Regions from separate parts of the Homo sapiens genome. Here region 1 is linked to region 2. The links come from fine-mapping of genetic effects on gene expression. A gene starts in region 2. The other region holds a variant in brackets. All regions are shown on one strand. Distances are from middle to middle.

Region 1 (12,051 bases), 38 kb before region 2:
GCCTGGGAGAGTGAGACTCCATCTCCAAAATAAATAAATAAATAAATAAATCTTTATAAACAACACCATTAAGTAAATACTATTATTCTTCCATATTTTAAAGGCAATGAAATTGAAGCTTAGGTAAGTTAAGCAATTTGCCCAAGGTGCATAGCTAGTAAGCAGCAGAGCTAGAATTAGAGTCCAAGCTGTCTGACATCAGAACCAGACCTCCTCAGCACTATTTCTGTGCTCTGCCTCTGGGAAAAAAAAAAACTGGCCTACCCAAAATAAGAAATTTCCTTATAAAAAGAAATAACACATACACACATACACATATGAAAACTGAAAATATTTACAAATTATTCTCTAAATGGCGTGTTCTTCTTTTCCTATTATTTGGGAAGAGTAAGTACGTCATCAATACTATGAGAAACTTCAGAGTAATTCACCAGTATTTTTTTTTTTCTTTGAGGCAGGGTCTTACTCTGTCACCCAGGCTGGAATGAAGTAGTGTGATCTTGGCTCACTGCAGCCTCAACCTCCAGGCTCAAGCAATCCTCCCACTTGGGACTACAGGCATGTGCCACTATGCCTGGCTATTTTTTTTTTTTTAATGTTTTGGTAGAGTTGAAGTCTCACTATGTTGTCCAGGCTGAGTCATTTTCAATTTCAATTTTATTTTTGCAATGCATCATTTTAAATATATATATATATATATCTACAACCCTAACTTCCTCACCCAGAATCTCCTTCTCAGAACTAATCACTTTTTTTTTTTTTTTTGAGATAGACTTTTGCTCTTATTGCCCAGGCTGGAGTGCAATGGTGCGATCTCGGCTCACCGCAACCTCCACCTCCCAGGTTCAAGCGATTCTCCTGCCTCAGCCTCCCAAGTAGCTGGGATTACAGGCATGCACCACGACACCCGGCTAATTTTGTATTTTTTAGTAGAAACGAGGTTTCTCCATGTTGGTCAGGCTGGCCTCGAAATCCCAACCTCAGGTGATCCACCCTCCTTGGCCTCCCAAAGTGCTGGGATTACAGGCGTGAGCCGCTGCGCCTGGCCAAACTAATTACTATTAATGGTCTTGTGTTTCTTTCTAAATGTATTATATGCATATACAGATGCATGCATATTTCCTTTAATATAAATAGCAGCATAATATTTACACTGTTCTGTATCTTTTTACACTTAAAAATAACATATCTTGGCAAATATTCTGTATCAATACATGTAGAGTTACTTCGTTCTTTTCAACAGCTGTAAAACATTCTGTTGGGGAGATACTGGGAAGAAGATGAACTGAAAAGGGAGAAATTTATTAACAATAATACATAGCATTTCTCAGGCTCTGTTTTCTATGCATAAAACTGTAAGACTCCTAACCCCCATGCAAAGCCCATGCGTGCGTGTTCTCTCAGCCTACAATGGGGAGATATTCAGGTGCACTCTCCGATGTGCCAACACACAGAAAGGTTCAAGCCGTGCAGGGTAGTCCTTTCCCCATCACGTCTCATAAAAACTTCTGTGTCAAGTCAAAAGAACTTACTCGGCCGGGTGCAGTGGCTCATGCCTGTAATCCCAGCACTTTGGGAGGCTGAGGCGGGCAGATCACTTCAGGTCAGGAGTTTGAGGCCAGCCTGGCCAACATGGTGAAAACTTGTCTTCTAAAGATACAATAATTAGCCGGGCGTGGTGGCACGTGGCTGTAGTCCCAGCTACCTGGGGGGCTGTAGAATTGCTTGAACCGGGAGGGGGAGGTTGCAGTGAGCTGAGATCGAGCCACTGCACTCGAGCCTGGGAGACAGAGTAAGATGTCTCCAAAAAAAAAAAAAAAAAAAAGAGAAAAAAAAAAACTTAGTTCTGGTTTCAACATGATACATAAACTCTTCAAATCTGAGCGAGTAGCAACATGCAACATTCAGAATTGGCTTTGTCCTACAGTAACTAAGTGATTCCTTAGAATAAGAACCTTCTTAGAAGGCTCCTGATCTTTCATGCAAATAGACCTCTGGTGGGCCCTCTCTAGCTAACCTCCCAACAGTCCCATTAGGGTCTCAATCCGTTTAATGAAACGGTAACCATTGGCTCAAGATGAGTGATTCCAGTCTTCCCTGCCATCCCCTAAATACACACAATGAGGTGCTCCTGTAGAGTCAGCGCACCTCCTGTAAGCCTCATTGGCAGGCATGGAGAAAAGAGACTTCCATTAATGGACACCAAAGTTGGTGTTATTGCTCTCACTTACAGCTGAGGAAAGTGAGGTTAAGTACTAGCTAAGGAAAGAAGTGAGGCTGAAGTATTCATACAGGGGACAGTTATTAGTCTTCTGTTCCCACAAACTGCCTCTCCAGGGCTGGAGAACCCCTGTCTATCCACAACCATTCCAAGCACAACCTGTATTCACACTCCTATTAAATTATAAGTTTATCATGTACAGCTGTGTGCCCTTGGGCACTATGCATGTTTGATCATTCATTCATTCAATAAATATTCATCCCAGCACTTTGGGAGGCCAAAGCAGGTGGGTCACTTGAGGTCAGGAATTCAAGACTAGCCTGGCCAACATGGCAAAACCCTGTCTCTACTAAACATACAAAAATTAGCCGGGTGCGGTGGCTTATGCCTGTAATCCCAGCACTTTGGGAGGCCAAGGTGGGCAGATCACCTGGGTCAGGAATTTGAGACCAGCCTGGCCAACATGGCAAATCCCTGTCTTTACTAAAAATACAAAAATTAGCTAGGGATGGTGGCGGACGCCTGTAATCTCAGCTACTGGGGAGGCTGAGGCAGGGGAATCACTTGAACCCCGGGAAGCAGAAGTTGCAGTGAGCCAAGATTGCACCACTGTACTCCAGCCTGGGTGACAGAGCAGACTCCATCTCAAAAATAAATAAATAAGGCTGGGCATGGTGGCTCATGCCTGTAATCCCAGCACTTTGGGAGGCCAAGGCAGGTGGATCACCTGAGGTCAGGAGTTTAAGACCAGCCTGACCAACATGGAGATGCTCCGTCTCTACTAAAAATATAAAATTAGCCAGGTGCGGTGGCGCATGCCTGTAACCTCAGCTACCCGGGAGGCTGAGGCCGGAGAATCGCTTGAACCTGGAAGGTGGAGGTTGCGGTGAGGCGAGATCATACCATTGCACTCCAACCTGGGCAAGAAGAGTGAAACTCCATCTTAAAAATATATATAAATAAAAATAAATAAATAAATAAATATTTACTGAGTCCTGGCCATTGAGCCCAGGCATGCTTTCTCCTGGGGCTTTGTCCCAAAAGAGGCACAACTTGAAGCTTTCAACATGTAAACAAGTAGGTAAGTAAGATATATACAGTTAGCAATAAATTCTCTGGAGGAGAGGAAGGGTAAGGTGATAAAGTGTAACTAGGAAGAAGAGGCTGTTTTAGATAGAAGGGCCAGGAAAGGGCTCAAAGAAGGTGACATTCCAGCTGAAGCCTGAAGTGTGGGAGGTAAGAAGGAACCAGTCATGCAAAGACTGAGGATAAGCATATAGGCACAGTGTACAGCAGCTGCTGGACCTGTTTGGCTCATTTCAGCATAGCACAATGTGTCACTCAAAATATACCTTTCAAATAAAAATGAATCCACATTGCTTTGCCAAGGACTAAAACATATTTTAAGGCCAAGTATTACCATAAAATTTTACTTAAAATATATTGAAATAGGCTGGGCGCAGTGGCTCATGCCTCATGCCTGTAATTCCAGCACTTCGGGAGGCCGAGGCAGGTGGATCACCTGAGTTCAGGAGTTCAAGACCAGCCTGACCAACATAGGGAAACCCCATCCCTACTAAAAATAACAAAAATTAGCCAAGCGTAATCCCAGCTACTTGGGAGGCTGAAGCAGGAGAATCACTTGAACCTGGGAGGCAGAGGTTGCAGTGAGCTGAAATCGTGCCTGGGCAACAAGAGTAAAACTCTGTCTCAAAAAAAAAAAAACAATTAAAATACTTTATATTATTACATTTATTTATTTATTTATTTATTTATGTATTTTGAGACGTAATTTTGCTCTTTGTTGCCCAGACTAGAGTGCAATGGCACAATCTTGGCTCCCTGCAACCTCCACCTCCTGCCTCCCGAGTTCAAGTGATTCTCCTGCCTCAGCCTCCCAAATAGCTAGGATTACAGGTGTGCACCACCACACCCAGCTAATTTTGCATTTTTAGTAGAGATGGGTTTTCACCATGTTGGTCAGGCTGGTCTCGAACTCGTGACCTCGAGAGATCCACCTGCCTAAGCCTCCCAAAGTGTTAGGATTACAGGCATGAGCCACTATGCCCAGCATTACATTATTTTAATAAATTTTTTAATGTGTATTATAATGATAACCTTGGCTAGGCCAGATGGCTCACACCTATAATTCCAAGCACGTTGGGAGACCAAGACATGCAGATCGCTTGACCCCAGGAATTCAAGACCAGCCTGGGCAATATGGCAAAACCCCATCTCTATAAAAATTTTTTTAAAAATCATTAAAAAAAATATATATATATAAGTGATTATCTCTATTTGATATTGACTGAGTCAGCATAATATATTCTTTCACGATCCTATGATATGTTGAACTCTGTGTGATAAAATAGTGATGCAAAGAAAGTTTATTTAAAAATGAATGCTGGGGCCAGGCATGGTGGCTGACACCTGTAATCCCAGCACTTTGGGAGGCCAAGGCGAACGGATCACTTGAGGTCAAGAGTTTGAGACCAGCCTGGGCAACATGGTAAAACCCCATCTCTACTAAAACTACAAAAATTATCCAGGCATGGTGGTGCATGCCTGTAGTATCAGCTACTTCAGAGGCTGAGGTAAGAGAATAGCTTGAACCCGGAAGGCAGAGGTTGCAGTGAGCCAAGAGTGTGCCACTGCACTGCAGCCTGGGTGACAGACTGAGACTCTGTCTCAAAAAAAAAAATTTTTTTTTAATGAGTACTGGGTTGAGAATCAAAGACCAAGGTTCTAGTACCCGGTTCTCTCTCTCTCTCTTTTTCTTTTTTTTTTTTTGAGATGGAGTCTTGCTTTGTCGGCCAGGTTGGAATGCAGTGGCATGATCCCAGCTCACTGCAACCTTCACCTACCAGGTACAAGAGATTCTCCTGCCTCAGCCTCCTGAATAGCTGGGATTACAGGTACCTGCCACCATGCCCTGCTAATTTTTGTATTTTTAGTAGAGATGAGTTTCACCATCTTGGCCAGGCTAGTCTCGAATTCCTGACCGCAAGTGATCATCCACCTTGGCCTCCCAAAGTGTTGGGATTATAGGTGTGAGCCACCGTGCTGGGCCCCAGACTCTCTTTTAAACCAACTTTATGTTTTGGGACCAGCCAGTTAACCTAAGTTAGGCAACCTGGTTTTCCTTTTTGAGCAGCATCAACAGCTTGGGATAGATCAGCGATTTTTGAAACAGTTCTATGATGCCTTTGGAGGGCCAGATGCGAGGCACAGTCTCAGTTACCTTCCCCACTACGGTAGCTTTCCTGTGTTTTATATGTTGACATTTCATGTGACAGTCTGTTGTAGGAATATGTTCCACTGGTTAAAAAAGAAAAAGATTTGAAAACCACTGGATCCTCAAATTTCCTTCTGTAATACAAGATATGGATAGAATTGTGAAGAATTTTTTTCTCTTTTCTTAGAATTCCTTACAAACTATATGTGTACATCATATTTGAGACAACTCAAGAATAATATGAAATATGGGAGCTAAGCTATGAGGATGCAAAGGCATAAGAATGATACAATGGACTTTGGGGGCTACACATTGAGTACAGTGTACACTCCTCGGGTGACGGGTGCACCAAAATCTCAGAGATTACCACTAGAGAACTCATCCATGTAACCAAAATCCACCTGTTCCCCAAAAACTATTGAAATAAGAATAGTTAAAAAAATAATAATTTCATTGACCAGCAAAAGAAAAGAATAACATGAAATAAAGTGAATTGGCCGGGCGTGGTGGCTCATGCCTGTAATCCTAGCACTTTGGGAGGCTGAGGCGGATGGATGACCTGAGATCAGGAGTTCGGGACTAGCCTGGCCAACATAGTGAAACCCCATCTCTACTAAAAATACAAAAAGTTAGCCAGGCGTGATGGTGGGCACCTGTAATCCCAGCTGCTTGGGAGGCTGAGGTGGGAGAATTGCTTGAACCTGGGAGGTGGAGGTTGCAGTGAGCTGAGATTGCACCATTGCACTCCAGTATGGGCAAGAAGAGCGAAACTCTGTCTGTAAATAAATAAATAAATAAATAAATAAATAAAGTGAATTATTTCACTTGAATGAATGCAGAAAATATATTTACTTTTAATATAAATATGACATTTTCCTCCAAGAACACAGAACATTAACCAAAGTTCCTTGCCCTTTCAATTAAAAAAAATGTAATTGTTTCTGATTTAAATTCTACTTGTTCTATCAGAATTGTTGAGAATATTCTACACACATTCGAATGGACTTCTTTTCTCCTTTCAAAATACTGACAATATTTAACAATAAGGAAGGAAATGCCAATCTGGCAAAATGCGGGATGTGAAAATGGTGCTATGGGCATGAGAAAACTCCT[A/C]CTATTAAGTTAGCAAGTTTCGAGTCCTTTACAAAAAGAAGAACTGACTTATTAATACCAGCTTTGCTTAGTCATGTCATTTTTTTAAAGTTATTTTGCTGTTATGTATTGACTTTTTCGCTGGCATCAACGTGGGAATCAATGTCACATGAATTCATGTTCATGCTAATTTTTTCTTGTTCTTTTTGTCTTTAACAGCTATCTGAGGTACACAGATGTTATGGATCTGGTAGCAAAGACCTTCAGTCATTCAAAAAAATTCACACTCCTTTCTTCTCTTGTTTGAAGTACTTAGACTATGCTTCTTTCTTTAGAGTATGCAAGACCATTGTTGCATGGTATAGTGCTTCATAATAGGTAGTGAACATATTTAGTAATGAACATGTCAGGCACTCATTGTTATCCCCTGAAAACACTGTGCAGTAAAGTTATTTTTCCTTGACTTTTCTTTAAATTAAAAAAAAATTTTTCTTTGAAACAGGTCTTGTTCTGTCACCCAGGCTGGAGTGCAGTGGCTCAATCACAGCTCACTGCAGTTTGACTTCCTGGGCTCCAGCAATCCTCCTACCTCAGCCTCCCAAGTAGCTGGGACCACAAGCACGAGCCACACACACCTGGTTAATTTTTGTATTTTTTATAGAGACGGGTTTTTACCATGTTGCCCAGGCTGGTCTCAAACTCCTGAGTTCTATGACACTGTGTCCGGCTTGATCTTTGATTTTGGGTCCCCTTGGCCTGGCAGCCAGGGTCTTCCTAGGGCATCCCTATTTCTGGACCCCAACCTGTCTGCATTCTCTGGCCAAGTCCCTCAAACTCCAGGTCTTTCTGAACTCCTTCCTTAGCGTCCAGTGACTTCAACATGAGCAAAACTGTCTCAAAAAAAAGAAAAGAAAAGAAAAGAAAAAAAGAAATTCACACTCAAGTATTAGATAGGAATGGCCGGGCGTGGTGGCTCACGCCTGTAATCCCAGCACTTTGGGAGGCCAAGGCGGGTGGATCACGAAGTCAGAAGATCGAGACCATCCTGGCTAACACGGTGAAACCCCGTCTCTACTAAAAATCCAAAAAAATTAGCCGGGCGTGGTGGCGGCCGCCTGTAGTCCCAGCTACTCGGGAGGCTGAGGCAGGAGAATGGCGTGAACCTGGGAGGCAGAGCTTGCAGTGAGCCGAGATCGCGCCACTGCAGTCCAGCCTGGGCGACAGAGCGAGACTCCATCTCAAAAAAAAAAAAAAAAAAAAAGTGTTAGACAGGAAAAAAAAAGTGGTATTGTTTCCAAGTAAACACATTCATTGTCATTCAATAGTTTTCTGAAGAGTTATGAATACCATGGGATTTCAGGTAGTTAGAAGGAGATGTTATCCCATTACCAGCTTTCTTAGCATTCTTTTCAAATGCCACCACAGAGAGGGCCATCTTTGCTAAATGAATGTAAGCTGCCTTTTTCTTATTCAATGAAACTTGCTTACTCATAGCTCACAAAGTTCCTCTGAAGATGATTAGTAAGCAATATTTCAAAGTTTCAGCAAAAACATTGAAGGAGGCTACCCATGACTATTGAATTCACATTAGCAGTATGAAAAGAAGTCACATTGCCGTATCAGCTAGCCAATGTTCCTGCTAAATTGTTTTTTTCCATTAAAAAACTGCTTACACACATAAAGAGAAAGGACTTCACAAAGAAATATAGAATATTAGAGCTGGAAGGGAGCTTTATGATCATCTAAGCCAATGTACTTATATAGAAAAAAATGAGGCTATTAAGTTACCAAAGATCATCCAGCTGGTGGTAGATCTCATTTCTCAGCTACAGGCTCTCATAGCACCCTGGTTCCCTCTTTTCTTTAGAGCATGACACCAGTAACACTTTTCAAAAAATTAATACATAATAGTTGTACATATTTTGGGGGTGCATGTGATATTTTTATACATACATACAATGTGTAATGATCAAATCAGAGTGATTGGGGTATCCATCTCCTCAAACATTTATTATGTTGGAAACATTCCAATTCTTCTCTTCTAGCTATTTTGAAATATATAATATATTGCTGTTAACTATAGTCACCCTACTGTACTATCAAACATAAGATCTTGTTCTTTCTAATTGTACTTTTGTACCCATTCACCAATCTCTCTTCCTTGTCCCCTGCCCCACTTCTCTTGCCAGCCTCTGGTAACCACCAATCAACTCTCTACCTCTATGAGATCCACTTTTTAAGCTCCCACATATGAGTGAGATCATGTGGTATTTGTCATACTGTGCCTGGCTCATTTCACTTAACATAATAACCTCCAGTTCCATCCATGTTGCTGCATTTTACAGGATTTTACTCTTATGTATGGCTGAATAATATTTCATTATATATGTACCATATTTTCTTTAACTATTTATCCATTGGTGGACACTCAGGCTGATTCCACATCTTGGCTATTGTAAATGGTGCTGCAATAAACATGGGAGTGCAGATAATTCTTCCATACTGTGATTTCCTTTCTTTTGGATATATACCCAGCAGTGGGATTGCTACATGATATGGTAGTTCTATTTTTAGTTTTTTGAGGAACTGCCATACTGTTCTGCATAGTGGTTGTATTAATTTACAATCCCACCAACAGTGCACAAGCATTTCCCTTTTTCCACATCCTCATCAGCATCCATTATTTTTTGTCTTTTTGGTTATAGCCATTTTAACTGGAATGAGATAATATCTCAGTTTGGTTTTGATTTGCATTTGTCTGATGATTAATGATGTTGAGCATTTTTTCACATATACTTGTAAGCCATTTGTCTTCTTTTTGAGAAACGTCTATTCAGATCTTTTGTTCATTTTAAAATCAGATTATCCTTTTTTTTGCTATTTGGTTGTTTGAGTTCCTTACATATTTTGGCTATTAAATATTTTCTCCCATTCTGTAAACTCTCTTTTCATTTTGTTGATTGTTTCCTTTGCTGTGCAGAAGCTTTTTAGCTTGATGTAATCCCATTTGTCTATTTTTGTTTTTGTTGCCTGTGCTTTTGAGGTCTTACCCAAAAAGTCTTTGCCCAGACCAATGTCCTGAAGCATTTCCCAATGTTTTCTTCTAGTAGTTGCATAGTTTCAGGTCTTAGATTTAAGTCTTTAATCCATTTTGATTTGATTCTTATATATGGTGAGAGATAGGGGTCTAGCTTCATTCTTCTGCATAGGGTTATCCTATGCAGTTTTCCCATCACCATTTATTAAAGAGGCTGTCCTTTCCCCAACGTATCTTCTTGGTGCCTCTGTCAAAAATGAGTTGACTGTAAATTTGCGGTTTTGTATCTGAGTTATCTATTGTGTTCTGTCGGTCTATGTGTCCGTTTTTATGCCAGTGATACATCCACTTGTCATTATTTCATTAATGCCTGTCTCCCCCACTAGACTATTCCTTCTTGAATGCAAGAACCCCGTATTGGCCAGGCGCAATGGCTCACATTAGTAATCCCAGCACTTTGGAAGGCCGAGGCAGGTGGATCACTTGAGATTAGGAGTTCGAGACCAGCCTGGCCAACATGGTGAAATCCCATCTCTACTAAAAGTATAAAAATTAGTCAGGCACGGTGGCACGCCCCTGTAGTCTCAGCTACTCAGGGGACTGAGGCAGGAGAATTGCTTGAACTCAGGAGGTGGAGGTTGCAGTGAGGTGAATCGAACCACTGCACTCCAGTCTAGGCTAGAGAGGGAGATTCTGTCTCGAAAAAACAAACAACAACAACAACAACAAAAACCCTGTCTAGTTTTCCTTGCTGTTTGACAGTACAGTGTCAGATATGTAGTCAGTGCTCAGTAAATATGTGTTGAATGAGTATCAGGAAACACAGAATAAACTATCGATAAACTATCAATAAACATACAATCAATAGTATACTTAGACTGGGCATGGTGGCTCACATCTGTAATCCCAGCACTTTGGGAGGCTGAGGTGGGAGGATCATTTGAGCCCAGGAGTTCAAGATCAGCCTAGGCAACATAGTAAGACCCCATCTCTACAAAAAGTTTGTTTATTTATTTACATTTTTTGCGATGGAGTTTTGCTTTCATTGCCCAGGCTGGAGTGCAGTGGCACAATCTTGGCTCACTGCAACCTCCACCTCCTGGGTTCAAGTGATTCTCCTGCTTCAGCCTCCCAAGTAGCTGGGACTACAGGCAAGCGCCACCACTCCCAGCTAATTTTGTATTTTTATTAGAGATGGAGTTTCACCATGTTGGCCAGGGTGGTCTCGAACTCCTGACCTCAAGTGATCCATCCACCTCGGCCTTCCAAAGTGCAGTGATTACAGGTGTGAGCCACCAAGCCCGGCCTTATTTATTTATTTTATTTTATTTTATTTTTTTGAGATGGAGTCTTGCTCTGTCACCCAGGCTGGCATGCAGTGGCGCAGGGTCTCAGCTCACTGCAACCTCTGCTTCCTCAAGTGATTCTCCTGCCTTAACCTTCCAAGTAGCTGGGATTACAGGCACCCACCACAATGCCCAGCTAATTTTGTATTTTTAGTAGAGGTGGGTTTTTGCGATGTTAGCCAGGCTGGTCTCAAACTCCTGACCTCAAGTGATCCGCCCGCCTCGGCCTCCCAAAGTGCTGAAATTACTGGTGCAAGCCATTGCGTCTGGTCCCCCAATTTATTATTTTTTTAAATTAACCAGGTGTGGTGGCACTCGCCTATAGTCCCAGCTACTCGTGAGGCTGAGGTGAGAGGATCATTTGAGCCCAGGAGGTTGAGGCTGCAGTGAGCTGTGATTGCACCACTGCACTACAGCCTGGACTATAAAGTGAGACCCCGACTCAAAAAAAAAAAAAAAGGAAAAAAGAAAAAGAAAAAGAAAAAAGAAAAACAACCATAAAAACTTGTATATTTAGTCTGTGGAATAATTGTCAAACTATCATTCACACCTTATATGGACATGCTACTTACATTAGTCCAGGATATGTTAGATTCTGCTGCAGTAAAATACAAACCTTGATATGTCTGTGGCTGGAGACAAAAAGATTTACCTTTTTTTTTTTTTTTTTTTTTTTTAGAGAGAGTCTCGCTCTGTTGCTCAGGCTGGAGTGTAATGGCACAATCTCAGCTCGCTGCAACCTCCACCTCCCGGGTTCGAGCGATTCTTCTGCCTCAGCCTCCTGAGTAGGTGGGATTATAGGCATGCGTCACCACGACCGGCTAATTTTTGTATTTTTAGTAGAGACGGGGTTTCACCGTGTTGGCCAGGCTCAACTCCTAACCTCGTGATCCGCCCACCTCAGCCTCTCAAAGTGCTGGGATTACAGGCGTGAGCCACCGCACCTGGCCAAGATTTACTTCTTATTCATTGAAATTGTATATGTGACAGGCAACCTATCTCCATCTTGTAGCTACTTCTCGTGGAGCATGCATCCTCCAAGGTCCCTGTAGCAGGGGAAGTTCCAGATAGAGGCAGCATATGGCACTTCCACCTATAGTTTTTTGGCCAGAACAAATCA
Region 2 (12,051 bases):
GCTGGGATTGATTACAGGCATGAGCCAGCGTGCCCAGGCTTCCTTTCTTTTTTTAAAAAAATAATTGAGATGGGGGTCTCACTATGTTGACCAGGCTGGTCTTGAACTCCTGGCCTCAAGCGATCCTCTCACTTTAGCCACCCAAAGTAATGAGATTATAGGTGTGAGCCACCGCACCCAGCCAAACATGAGGAGTTTTCTAGCACCTTCTCCCCAGTCTGCTAACAATCTTTATTATTTGCTTATTGGAGTTTCCAAAGATCTTGCCAAGATTAAGACCAAATTCTTTAGTCACTTCAACAACTGAATTATTGAAGAAGAATTTGTGAGGAATGATAAGAGCTTGAACTTGATCTCCCTTTTTGGGTTCTGCAGTTCCCTATTCTCAGAAAACACAGTCTTCCACCTGAAGCGTGTCACCATATGATTTGTACGCCAGCACATGTGTTGCTTAAGATTTTCTAAAATAATCTCCATTGCCACTGAGGACAATGAACTTCTGCAAAAGTGAATCTGTCAATCAGGGATCCTCTCTTCAGAGCCCTTAGCTTGTTACTCAGCTCATTTCTGGAGTTGAGGGAAACATTGGTGTCCATATATTAAATAAATACTGCAGGGGCTCCCAAATTGGAGTTCACTGGCCCTACTGGGAGGGTTTGCCTGAAAATGTGTGCTGATGGCATTTTCCTGGGAAAATAACTGCCAGCTTTCATCAGATTCTCAAGAGATAGGAGTTTTGACTTCTAAAATGCTAAAAGTCTATTGCATTAACTTTTCAAGATGCCAAAACAACTTCACATCTTAGCCCTACAGAGAACCCTAAAGCTGCATTTCTGTTTTTGCATCTGTAACGTAGGGTTGTATATATATACATATATCTCCAACAGGCCGTATGCAGTGTCTCACACCTGTATTCCCAGTACTTTGGGAGGCCGAGGCAGGAGGATGGCTTAAGCCCAGGAGTTCGAGACCAACCTGGGCAACATGGTGAGACCCCATCTCTACAAAAAATGTAAAAATTAGCTCGGCATGGTGGTGCCTGCCTGCAGTCCCAGCTACTTGGGAGGTTGAGGCAGGAGGATCACTTGAGCCTAAGAGGTTGAGGCTTTAGTGAGCTATGATTGCACCACTGCACTCCAGCCTGAGTGACAGAGTGAGACCCTACCTCAAAAAAAAAAAAAAAAAAAAAATCAACACACTCATTGACTTCACTAAGGAAGTTCTAGGCAGCAACCCTAGCTTCCACTCAACACTTTTGCCAGGTTCATTTATTAATATCCTGCATAATCAAACTCTAGAGACAATAGTTGGGGAAATGCTAGCTTAGAAAGTTTACTTGTTGGCCGGTCACGGTGAATCATGCCTGTAATCGTAGCACTTTAGGAGGCCGAGGCTGGAAGATCACTTGAGCTAAGTAAGGAGTTTGAGATCAGCCTGGCCAACATGGTGAAACCCCATCTCTACTAAAAATAGAAAAATTAGCCAGGCATGGTGGCAGGCGCCTGTAATCACAGCTACTTGGGAGGCTGAGGCATGAGAATTGCTTAAACCCAGGAGGTGGAGGTTGCATTAAGCTGATATGGTGCCACTGCACTCCAGCCTGGGCGATAGAGCAAGGCTCACTCTCAAAAAAAAAAAAAAAAAAAATCACTTTTTTATGGCCATAACACCTTGAACAGGCCTGACCTCTTCCGATTTTAGACACCAAGGCGTGTAGGGCCAGTTTAGTACTTGGATGAGATCCCACCTAGAAATATCAGGGTTTTAATTTATTTACATTAAAAAAAAAATAGTCCAGGCGTGGTGGTTCATGCCTGTAATCCCAGCAATTTGGGAGGCCGAGGCAGGCATATCACCTGAGGTCACGAGTTTGAGACCAGCCTGGCCAACATGGTGAAACCCCATCTCTACTAAAAATGCAAAAATTAACCCTGTGCGATGGCGTGGGCCTGTAATCCCAGCTACTCAGGAGGCTGAGGCAGGAGAATCACTTGAACCCGGCAGGCAGAGGTTGCAGTGAGCCGAGATCACGTCACTGAACTCCAGCCTGGGTGACAGAGACTCCATCTTGGAAATAAAAATAAAAATTAAAAATTAAAAAAAAAGAAAGTTCAGGCTGGGTGTAGTGGCTCAGGCCTGTAATCCCAGCACTTTGGGAGGCCAAGGCGGGTGGATCACCTGAGGTCAGGAGTTCAAGACCAGCCTGGCCAACATGGTGAAACCCCATCTCTACTAAAAATACAAAAATTAACCAGCCTGAGTAGCTGGGATTACAGCCTGGCCAATATGGTGAAACCCCGTCTCTACTAAAAATACAAAAATTAGCTGGATGTGGTGGTGGCCTGTAATCCCAGTTACTCGGCAGGCTGAGGCAGGAGAATCGCTTGAACCCAGGAGGTGGAAGTTGCAGTGAGCCAAGATCATGCGATTGCACTCCAGCCTAGGGGACTGAGGGAGACTCTGTCTCAAAAAAAAAAAAAAGTTCACTGTGTTTACATTCATTTCAAATACTCACCACACCTGTAGTATTAATATGTGACAAGCATGGGCTGGGTGCTGTGGAGTTTGCCGTTGGGACTGAGCACCTGGTCGAAGGCAGCCTCAACTGCACACACAGGTCTCCAGGGCTGAGAGCGTGCACATGAAGTGGAATTAACCCAAATTTGGATCTGGCCCAGCCCACCTCACTAGAAGTTGAACCTTAGGGAAAATCACAAAACATCTTTGAACTTCAGTTTAGATTCCTCATCTGTGACATGGGGGTACACAGATAACGACTGCCATACATGACTTGTGATTATTTTAGGGCTTGATGTGTATGTTGATCTGGATCCTGCCTCTTTCTTCTCCAACTTTGCCTCTTAGCCCCCAGGTGCATTTTCCTGCAGCCTCCTCTCCTCCTCCCGCTTTTTTTCTGTGTCTTGAATGCCAAACTCATTTCCATCCCAGGCTCTTTGCACCTGCTGCTTCCTCTGCCAGGAGGTGCTCCTCCAAATATTTGCATCTCTGCTTTTTGTTTTGCTCACTCCTTCATTTTTCTGAGGCAGGGTGGGGAGGCACTCCATTTTTCTTGGGGGTTTCACTGTGCTGTCCAGGCTGGTCTCAAACTCCTGGCCTCAAGCCATCCTCCTGTGTAGCTGCTTAGCGGGGATATAGGCACCAGACACCCTGCCCGCCTGCTCACTCTTAAGTCTTCTTCTTGGGTTTCAGCTCACACCGCTTTCCTCCTCAGAGATTTTTCCTGGCTATTCGCACACTGTCTTCATAATCTTTCTCTTTTGTATTGTTGTTTTTGACACTTCTTATCTAATACTTTACCAATGTGTTTATTTTTTAAAAATCATTTCTTCTCATAAGGATTTGTTCAGGGCTGTAGCTCCTGGACATGGGGCAGTGCCCAGAAGAGTGAAGAGCTCAGTAATATGTTGAACGAATGAACCAAATAAGGTGGCTTGAAAAGGGTGTAGACTAGTACAGATTAAAAACAAATCAACATTAGTGATTACCGTTTTATACCTGTTATTATAAGATCTGCATATCAGAAGAAGGACTGTGTGTTAACATTTGCATAACAAATTGGCTCAAAAAAGTAATTGGTCCAAAACAATAGTCCCCTATCAAAGGTGAGGTTAGGCTCCAACAATGCAAAACTGAAGTTACTGGCAGCTTTGAAATCACAGACCCTCTTCACTCTCCCCACCCACAAGGTTTACAAAAAATTCTTAGGCGGTTTTCCCCCTGGCCAAAATGTGACAGCTATTAAAATGGCAGGTTTCAGGTTAGCCAAGTGAGAGGCAGACATGTGTTTCAGGGGACAGGAAGGTTATTTCCACCGTGTACAAGTGGATGCTGCTTTGGACACTGATGGACAGGTAACATAAAATGGGCGAATCTGCAGGGGGATGAACTGGGAGGAAAGTATTTTAGGTGGAGGGAGCGTCTCATAATTTCCAACAGAGCCACCCCAAATAAACCTTGAAGCCAAGTAAGAGAACGGGACCTGCATTAGGAATGCAGCAGCCTCAGGTATGTCCAACCACATGGCCCCCCATAAGGTTTTCCTAACCATTTTGGAGCCGCTACTGAATTTAGGTGTGGAGGAAAGCAAGAGCATGGATTCTATTATCCCCACTCAACTGAGTGGCAAGATATAAGGCTAAGGCTCAAGAGCCTTGAATGTCAGGACAAGGGCCCTAAGCCTTTAAGCTCTCTAAGGCGATCAGTGAATGGCAGTGTAAGTAAAGTAGTTTAGGAGGAAAGACCGATTTGGAGAGTCCAGAGTGAAGGCTGTTGACAGTCCAGGCAAGAAAGAGAGTATAGAGTCCAGAATTGGGAGAGAAGTAATATGAATTAAAAAAAGAAGGGTGGGCCTGAGTTGCCTGGGTTAGAAGTTTCCGGTGGGGCTATGCAATCTGAAGAGCTGCAACCTAAGTTGGGCGGGGGATTCATGGGGCTTGTTCTAATGCTTTTTTGCTTTTTGGCTGATGGGATGCAAACTACTATGTGCCTCTTCAAAATAATAGCCCCTGGTGTCTACTAATCATATCATGAAATAGAAATTGTGAAGGCACTGTATCTTTTAAAAAAAATCCCCTTTTGAAGAACTTCCTTAAAAACAGCTATTTAATGCAACTCTGCCAGTATGTTCTTGATGGTTATGTCTTAACAATTCTAATTTTTAAAAAAAATATTACTATTTTTTTTCATCAGAGCCATTGCACTGGAAAATAATTTTTTATTTTCATGATAGCCTACCGTTGAATTTACCGTTCTGATATTAATGAAACATCTCTATAAAGGGTTGAAGTGTCTTCCCGGTAAGTTCTCAGCTTATGTTTTTCTAAATATCTTCTAATCACTGTTCATTTTTTCCTTTGGCCTAATGAGTGTTTCTCACTGTCTGCGTGTTCAGATGCAAGAAATATTAAGCAATCATAGTAATCAATAATGTTTTCAAGCTTTTTCTTCCTTTTAGATTTGCTACTTGTAATAGCTGCGATAGTCTTGTGGAGCATTTTAGTCAAAGAGAACATGTTCATTTTTAAATATTTAATTCAAAATACAACATTCAGTGCTTCTGCACTTTTGAGTCAAAGCAGTTAATTGAAAATCACTGACATGGCTTTTAAAAAATATGTGCTACTGATAATATTCACTAAAGACCATGAGCCGAAGAGTGATTTCTGGATTTTCTTCTATTTTCTTTTAACTGACATGATGTAATGATTTCAAAGAGCCAAGCAGAATTTTGATATTTAATATGTTATGTTGATATATGATGGATATATATAATATTGGCATTAGATTACATCATCTCATTTTATTATTCAAAGTTAAACACTAAAGAGTAAACACATTGTGTTTGCGGGTAAATACTAAGAAGATAAATACTTGCATAAAAAGAACTGCTGGGTTTACTTAATGGAATGATAAGCAATTTTGGACCCACCACAGTTCTTTTTATTATGTGGGTTGGTTTTTGTTTGTTTGTTCCCTGTGTTGGTCTATAGAACGTAGAGTTAAAAGCATTTAATTGTGGGTCGGTGTGATAATTGTTTCTCTAAAGCAAAATCAGAATTACTTAGAGATAAGAAAGTAAATAACAAAATTATAGACGAGTTTTCTTAGCCTAGGATTCAAGCAAGTCCAAGGATAGTCTTCACAGGCTAAATTTTATTTGCAATATAAGTCCAATTTTCATGGGAGGAAAAGGATGGCTTTTGCCAGATTCTCAGAAGGCAATATAACACCAAAGAAAGGTTTTTTAAAAAAGCCCTATTTTTATAAAGCTATGCTAAGGTAAAAAGGATTTTGATTTTCAGAATTTTAGAATATTTAAAATAATTTTGAAATACTTATATATACTTTTGAGTTATTTCCACTTTCTCTTATCAATCAAGCAGCTCAGATAATTAAATATATAGCTATTTTAATATTTAAAGCATTTTGTAATCATGGAAAAGCAAAAAGAAATGTTTGTAGAAAATTTCGTAGAAAAAAATTTGTACTCATCAAAGAGAATTCAGGAGGTACTCTTGGTTTATGTAAGGTATTTTCAGAAAATATTTTTGAGCAAGATCTTATTCAGAATCAAATTAGAGACTGCATTTAATTTTGCTTTTTAAATATTAAACTTTTTCAGGATTGTCAACTTATTTTATTTTATTTTCTTCAAGCAACAATTGCTAAGGAACAGAATTGTCAATTTATTAATGAAATATGGTAAGCTGACATTTTAATATTTTCTTTACTCTGTCCACAGAGGAGCTCTACAGCATAATAATTAAAAAACTTTTTTCTTTACTCTCCCTCCATTTTAAAAATAAAATATATCGATCATGTTAATAAGGATATGAAATAGTTTGCAAAGCAATTCAATTTTAGGTCTTGGAGACATAAGAGCATTTCATTTTTAAACAACAATTCATAGGTTCTGTTTCATTGAAGATATTTCCTTGGCCCTTTTTTTCTAAATCACTCTCCTCTGCTCTACAACTCCTTGCTAAAATTTTGCAATAATGTTAAATACTGTACTATAGAATGAATACCATTCTCTAAATAGTATACTATAATGGAGTGTGTTTCAACTGTGATTGATTTTGTGCCTCAGGGTACATTTGGTGATGTCGGAAACATTTTTGACGGTCACAACTGTGAAGGTACTACTGGCAACCAGTGGGTAGGGGTCAGGGAAGCTGCTAAACATCGTACAATGCACAGGCAGCCCCCCTGACAACAGAGACAGCCAACACCAAATGCCCATAGTGTCAAGATTGAGAAACCCTCCTTTAGACTAAATACTATTTTAAATCAGGGAGATTAAGTTTAATTGGTAATTCGAAAACTCCAGAATTCTATCATTGTTCCAACAGACGTGTGTTGAACAAGACAAGCTGGGTCAAGCATTTGAAGATGCTTTTGAGGTTCTGAGGCAACATTCAACTGGAGATCTTCAGTACTCGCCAGGTAAAGATGAGTCATTTACCCTCTTCTGCTGGTACATCAAATGGCTTGTTGGTCACATACACATATAAGAATAATGATCAGCTGACCAGGTGCTGTGGCTCACATCTGTAATCCCAGCACTTTGGGAGGCCAAGGTGGGCAGATCACTTAAGACCAGGAATTCAAGACCTGCCTGGCCAATATGGCGAAACCCTGTCTCTACTAAAAATACAAAAATTAGCTAGGCATGGTGGCGCGACTGTAATCCCAGCTACTCTGGGGGCTGAGGCTTAAGAATTGCTGAACCTGAGAGGCAGAAGCTTTAGTAAGCCGAGATGGCGCCACTGTATTCCAGGATAATGATCAGAACAGAGAAGACCTTTTTTTTCTTTTTTCTTTTTTCTTTTTTTTTTTTTTTTGAGACGAAGTCTCACTCTGTCGCCCAGGCTGGCGTGCAGTGGCGCGATCTCGGCTCACTGCAAGCTCCTCCTCCCGGGTTCACGCCATTCTCCTGCCTCAGCCTCCCGAGTAGCTGGGACTACAGGCGCCCGCCACCATGCCCATCTAATTTTTTGTATTTTTAGTAGAGACGGGGTTTCACCGTGTTAGCCAGGATGTTCTCGATCTCCTGACCTCGTGATCCGCCCATCTCGGCCTCCCAAAGCGCTGGGATTACAGGCATGAGCCACTGTGCCCGGTGACCTTTTTTATCTTTAATTTAATTTTTATTTGTTTATTTTTTTGTAGAGACAGGGTCTCACTATGTTGCCCAGGCTGGTCTGGAACTCCTGGACTCAAAAACGAGATCATTTTTACCTGAAGCATCCAGGATTAATTCTAGCAAAGGCAAAATATGTCCAGGAGTATCTAGCCTAAATAAAACTAAAGTCTCACATATAAAAATGCAGAGAATATAGAGGATGACATTCCACACAGAAATACAAAGATATATAATTATCTGCTATTAGAAATATCTGGTTGACATTTATTTATCTAATAGACAGTTCATTTTAACTATTCACGAAAGGCTTTTAAATTGTTCCAATGAATCTTATAGACCTTCCACCCACACAACAAGATATATTCTACTTGGAAGAATAAGTATTTTTATCCTTCCTCACCCATTATCCTATGGACTATATAGTCTAAATAGAATGCAAATATGTTATGTATTAAGTTTATATAGGGTATTACAGGGTGTTCCAAGATAAGAGAAATCATGTGGGCAGGGCATGGTGGCTCACACCTGTGATTCCAGCACTTTGGGAAGCCAAGGTGGGTGGATCACTTGAGCCCAGGAGTTCAAGACCAGCCTGGGCAACATGGCAAAACCCTGTCTCTACAAAAAATACAAAAATTAGCCAAGTGTGGTGGCGTGTGCCTGGAGTCCCAGCTACTTGGGAGGCTGAGGTGGGAGGATCACTTGAGGCCAGGAGGCACAGGCTGCAGTGAACCGAAATAACGTGGCCGCACTCCAGCCTGGGTAACAGAGCAAGACCCTGTCTTAAAAAAAAAAAAGAAAGAAAAGAAAGAAAGAAAGAAAAAGAAAGAAAGAAAGAAAGAAAGAAAGAAAGAAAGAAAGAAAGAAAGAAGGAAAGAAAGAAAGAAAGAAAAAGAAAGAAAGAAGGAAGGAAAGAAAGAAAGAAAGAAAGAAAAAGAAAGAAAGAAAGAAAGAAAAAAGAAAGAAAGAAAGAAAGAAAGAAAGAAAGAAAGAAAGAAAGAAAGAAATCATGCGGTTTCAGCCTGCAAGGAGCATGTTCTCCAAATGGGATATGTATAACAGTATCCATAATAGCAGCATAATGAGATAAACACCACAGGAGAAGTGCAAAGTGGCAAGAAAACATAGATGAGAGCAATTGCATCTATAAGTGCATATATATACACACATATTTATATGCACAAATACAAACTTTGACTTTTTTAGTTTCTTTCTCTGATTTAAAATTAGATTACAGAAATTACCTGGCTTTAATCAACCATCGTCCTCATGTCAAAGGAAATTCCAGCTGCTATGGAGTGTTGCCTACAGAGGAGCCTGTCTATAATTGGAGAACGGTAATTGTAAGTATCAGACCATCCCTTAATAACAGGCAAATATCCTATTCTTGCCAGCCTTCCATTTCACATACACTGTCTGAAACCCAGCTTAAAGACAGCATTGACTATGAAAATGGTTTTTTCTTTCTTTTTTTTTTTTTTTTGAGATGGAGTCTGGCTCTGTCACCCAGGCTGGGGTTCAGTAGCTCAATCTCAGCTCACTGCAACCTCTGCCTCCCAGGTTCAAGTGATTCTCCTGCCTCAGCCTCCCAAGTAGCTGGGGTTACAGGCGTGCACCACAATGCCCAGTTAACTTCTGTATTTTTAGTGGAGACAGGATTTCCACATATTGGCCAGGCTGGTCTCAAACTCCTGACTTCAGGTGATCCACCAGCCTCAGCCTCCCAAAGGGAAGGATTACAGGCGTGAGCCACTGTGCTCTACCTGAAAATGCTTTTTAAGGGCCATCAGCTGTAGTCTGAACTTGACAGTCAACATGGATGATCACATGCTGTTAGGAAGGAAATAACCCTTCATCATTGCTCTCTACTTAGCCTCAGACTGGTTTGGATGACTTCGTAAAAAGGAGGTGTTTTCAGGATGTTAATATCAGTTGCTTCTCCTTAGTCCATCTGGGAAATTGCAAAAAGTTTCCCCTAAAAGCCACAGGGCAAAGATCCAAACTGCCCCTGCACTGGTTTTACCTACAGTCTTGTATTAGACTGCTCTGTTTTCCTTCTCAAACTCAGTGTTATCTGCATGTATTGGACCAATTCATTGATATTTTATTAATAGCAGCATCTGCAAAGGGAAACACCCTGCCATCTCCCCATTCATGTATTCTTTTAGTTGTCTTCTTCATGCATCCATTTTATCAAGCGGTCTTCATGGGATGAGGTATAAATGTGAATTGGTTTTTATTTTTCTTCAGTCACTACCTTCAATCACACCATGTCAAATGTCCTTTTTCTGTTTCTATAAATTGTTCCCTTGGGGCCTCTTCACAAGACATTTTATTTTAAGAGAGTGCTTTGGGCTGGGCTCAGTGGCTCACGCCTGTAATCCCAAAGTTTTGGGAGGCTGAGGAGGAAGGATCACTTGAGCCCAAGAGTTCGAGACCAACCTGGGCAACAGAGCAAGACCCTGTCTCAAAAAAAAATTTTGTAAATAAAAATTTTAAATAGAGGGTGCTTTGGTTCCAGCTTAACCTCTTCCACCTCCACTTAGGGTTGCCAGGTAAAATGCAAGATGCCCAATATTTTGTTTGCTAAATCTGGCAACCCTTCTTCTTTCTACTTCAGCTCCCATTTTCTAGCATGTGCCTCACAGCCTCTTATCCCTGGGGACTCCTTGCCTGCTGGTCAGCCTTCTTGATTGGGGTGTGGAAAGACAGCTCAAGCCCAGCCCCTTCCGGTGTTTAACCCTTGGAAACCCACATATTCTTCTTGCCATATGTAAATGGTAGAAGCTTGGGCTGCTTCTTCCTGTCCCCTTTCTTTATTCTGCCTTCCCTTGGCTGTCATCTTTTTTTTTTAAGACAGGGTATTTTTCTCTCACCTAGGTTGGAGTGCAGTGGTGCGATTATAGCTCACTGAAGCTTCAAATTCCTGGGGTCAAGGGATCCTCCTGCCTCAGCTTCCCAAGTAGCTGGGACTATAGACATGTGCCACCAGGCCTGGGTAATTTTTAAATATAAATTTTTTTGTTCTGTTGCCCAGGCCGTAGTGCAATGGCACCATCTCGGCTCACTGCAACCTCTGCCTCCTGGGTTCAAGCGATTCTCCTGCCTCGGCCTCCCAAGTAGGTGGGATTACAGGTGCCCACCACCACCCACAGCTAATTTTTTTTTTTTTTTTGAGATAGAGTTTCACTGTTGTCACCCAGGCTGGAGTGCAATAGTGTGATCTCGGCTCACTGCATCCTCCGCCTCCCAGGTTCAAGCGATTCTCCTGCCTCAGCCTCCCTAGTAGCTAGCTGGGATCACAGGCGCCTGCCACCATGCCCAGCTAATTTTTGTATTTTTAGTAGAGACAGGGTTTTACCATGTTGGCCAGGCTGATCTCAAACACCTGACCTCAGGTGATCCACCCACCTCGGCCTCCCAAAGTGTTGGAATTACAAGTGTGAGCCACTGTGCACCCAGCCAATTTTTTTGTACTTTTAGTAGAGACGGGGTTTCACCACGTTGGCCAGGCTGGTCTCGAACTCTTGACTTCAGGCGATCCGCCCGCCTCGGCCTCCCAAAGTGCTGGGATTACAGGCATGAGCCACCATGCCTGGCGTACAAAAAGGCCAGGCACGGTGTCTCATGCCTGTAATCCCAGCACTTTGGGAGGCCGAGGCAGGTGGATCGCCTGAGGTCGGGAGTTCAAGACCAGCCTGGCCAACATGGAGAAACCCCATCTCTACTAAAAATACAAAATTAGCCGGGCATGGTGGCACGCCCAGCTACTAGGGAGGCTGAGGCAGGAGAATCGCTTGAAACTGGGAGGCGGAGGTTGCGTTGAGCCAAGATCGCGCCATTGCACTCCAGCCTAGGCAACAAGAGTGAAACTCTGTCTCAAAAAAAAAAAAAAAATTGTAGAGGTGGGGTCTCTCTAAGTTGCCCAGGCTGGTCTTGAACTCCTGGGCTCAAGTGATTCCCCTGCCTTGGCTTCCCAAACTGTTGAGATTACAGGCATGAGCCACCGTGCTCGGCCCTTTCTTGTCTTGTAAAATTTTTATTGTTTTCATTACTTATTTTATTTTATCTTCCCAGCTGCCTACTGACATCTTTCTTTTCTTATCTCCCCTTGCCTACATGGGCATCCAACACAGGAATGGAAGCCCATCTTCCCTTTCTGATGGTACCACAGACTTTAAGCAATCCCTTCTTTCTTGTAGGGAGGGTAGGACATGACACTCCTCACAAAGCCAAGGATTACCCTCTGTCCCCTGGTCCTCTCCTTATGTGGGTTTGATGCTAGTGCTGCCCTGGGAGCTATCTGGCTGCAGTTGGGGGTAATTCCTTTTGCAATCTGGGAGACGCTTAGCCTCTTTTTCCCCTAACTTTTGACTTCAGCCTAT

Evidence for each region. PIP is the estimated chance that this variant, and not a neighbour inherited with it, causes the effect.
Region 1: its variant is fine-mapped to the expression of SPIC in blood mononuclear cells (TOPMed, PIP above 0.99).

What each region holds. Positions count from the first base shown.
Region 1 is chr12:101,432,871-101,444,921 of GRCh38, forward strand. No RefSeq gene overlaps it. Among named protein-coding and RNA genes, the nearest start is that of ARL1, 31 kb to the left of the region's middle. The variant A/C (reference allele first, on the strand shown) is at 6,570.
Region 2 is chr12:101,470,686-101,482,736 of GRCh38, forward strand. It overlaps SPIC (Spi-C transcription factor), which reads left to right and starts at 4,651. Exons shown (of 6, transcript NM_152323.3): 1 at 4,651-4,817; 2 at 6,143-6,222; 3 at 6,873-6,966; 4 at 8,897-9,009. The coding sequence starts at 6,220. It also overlaps the pseudogene RNA5SP367. RefSeq lists an enhancer at 3,296-3,991.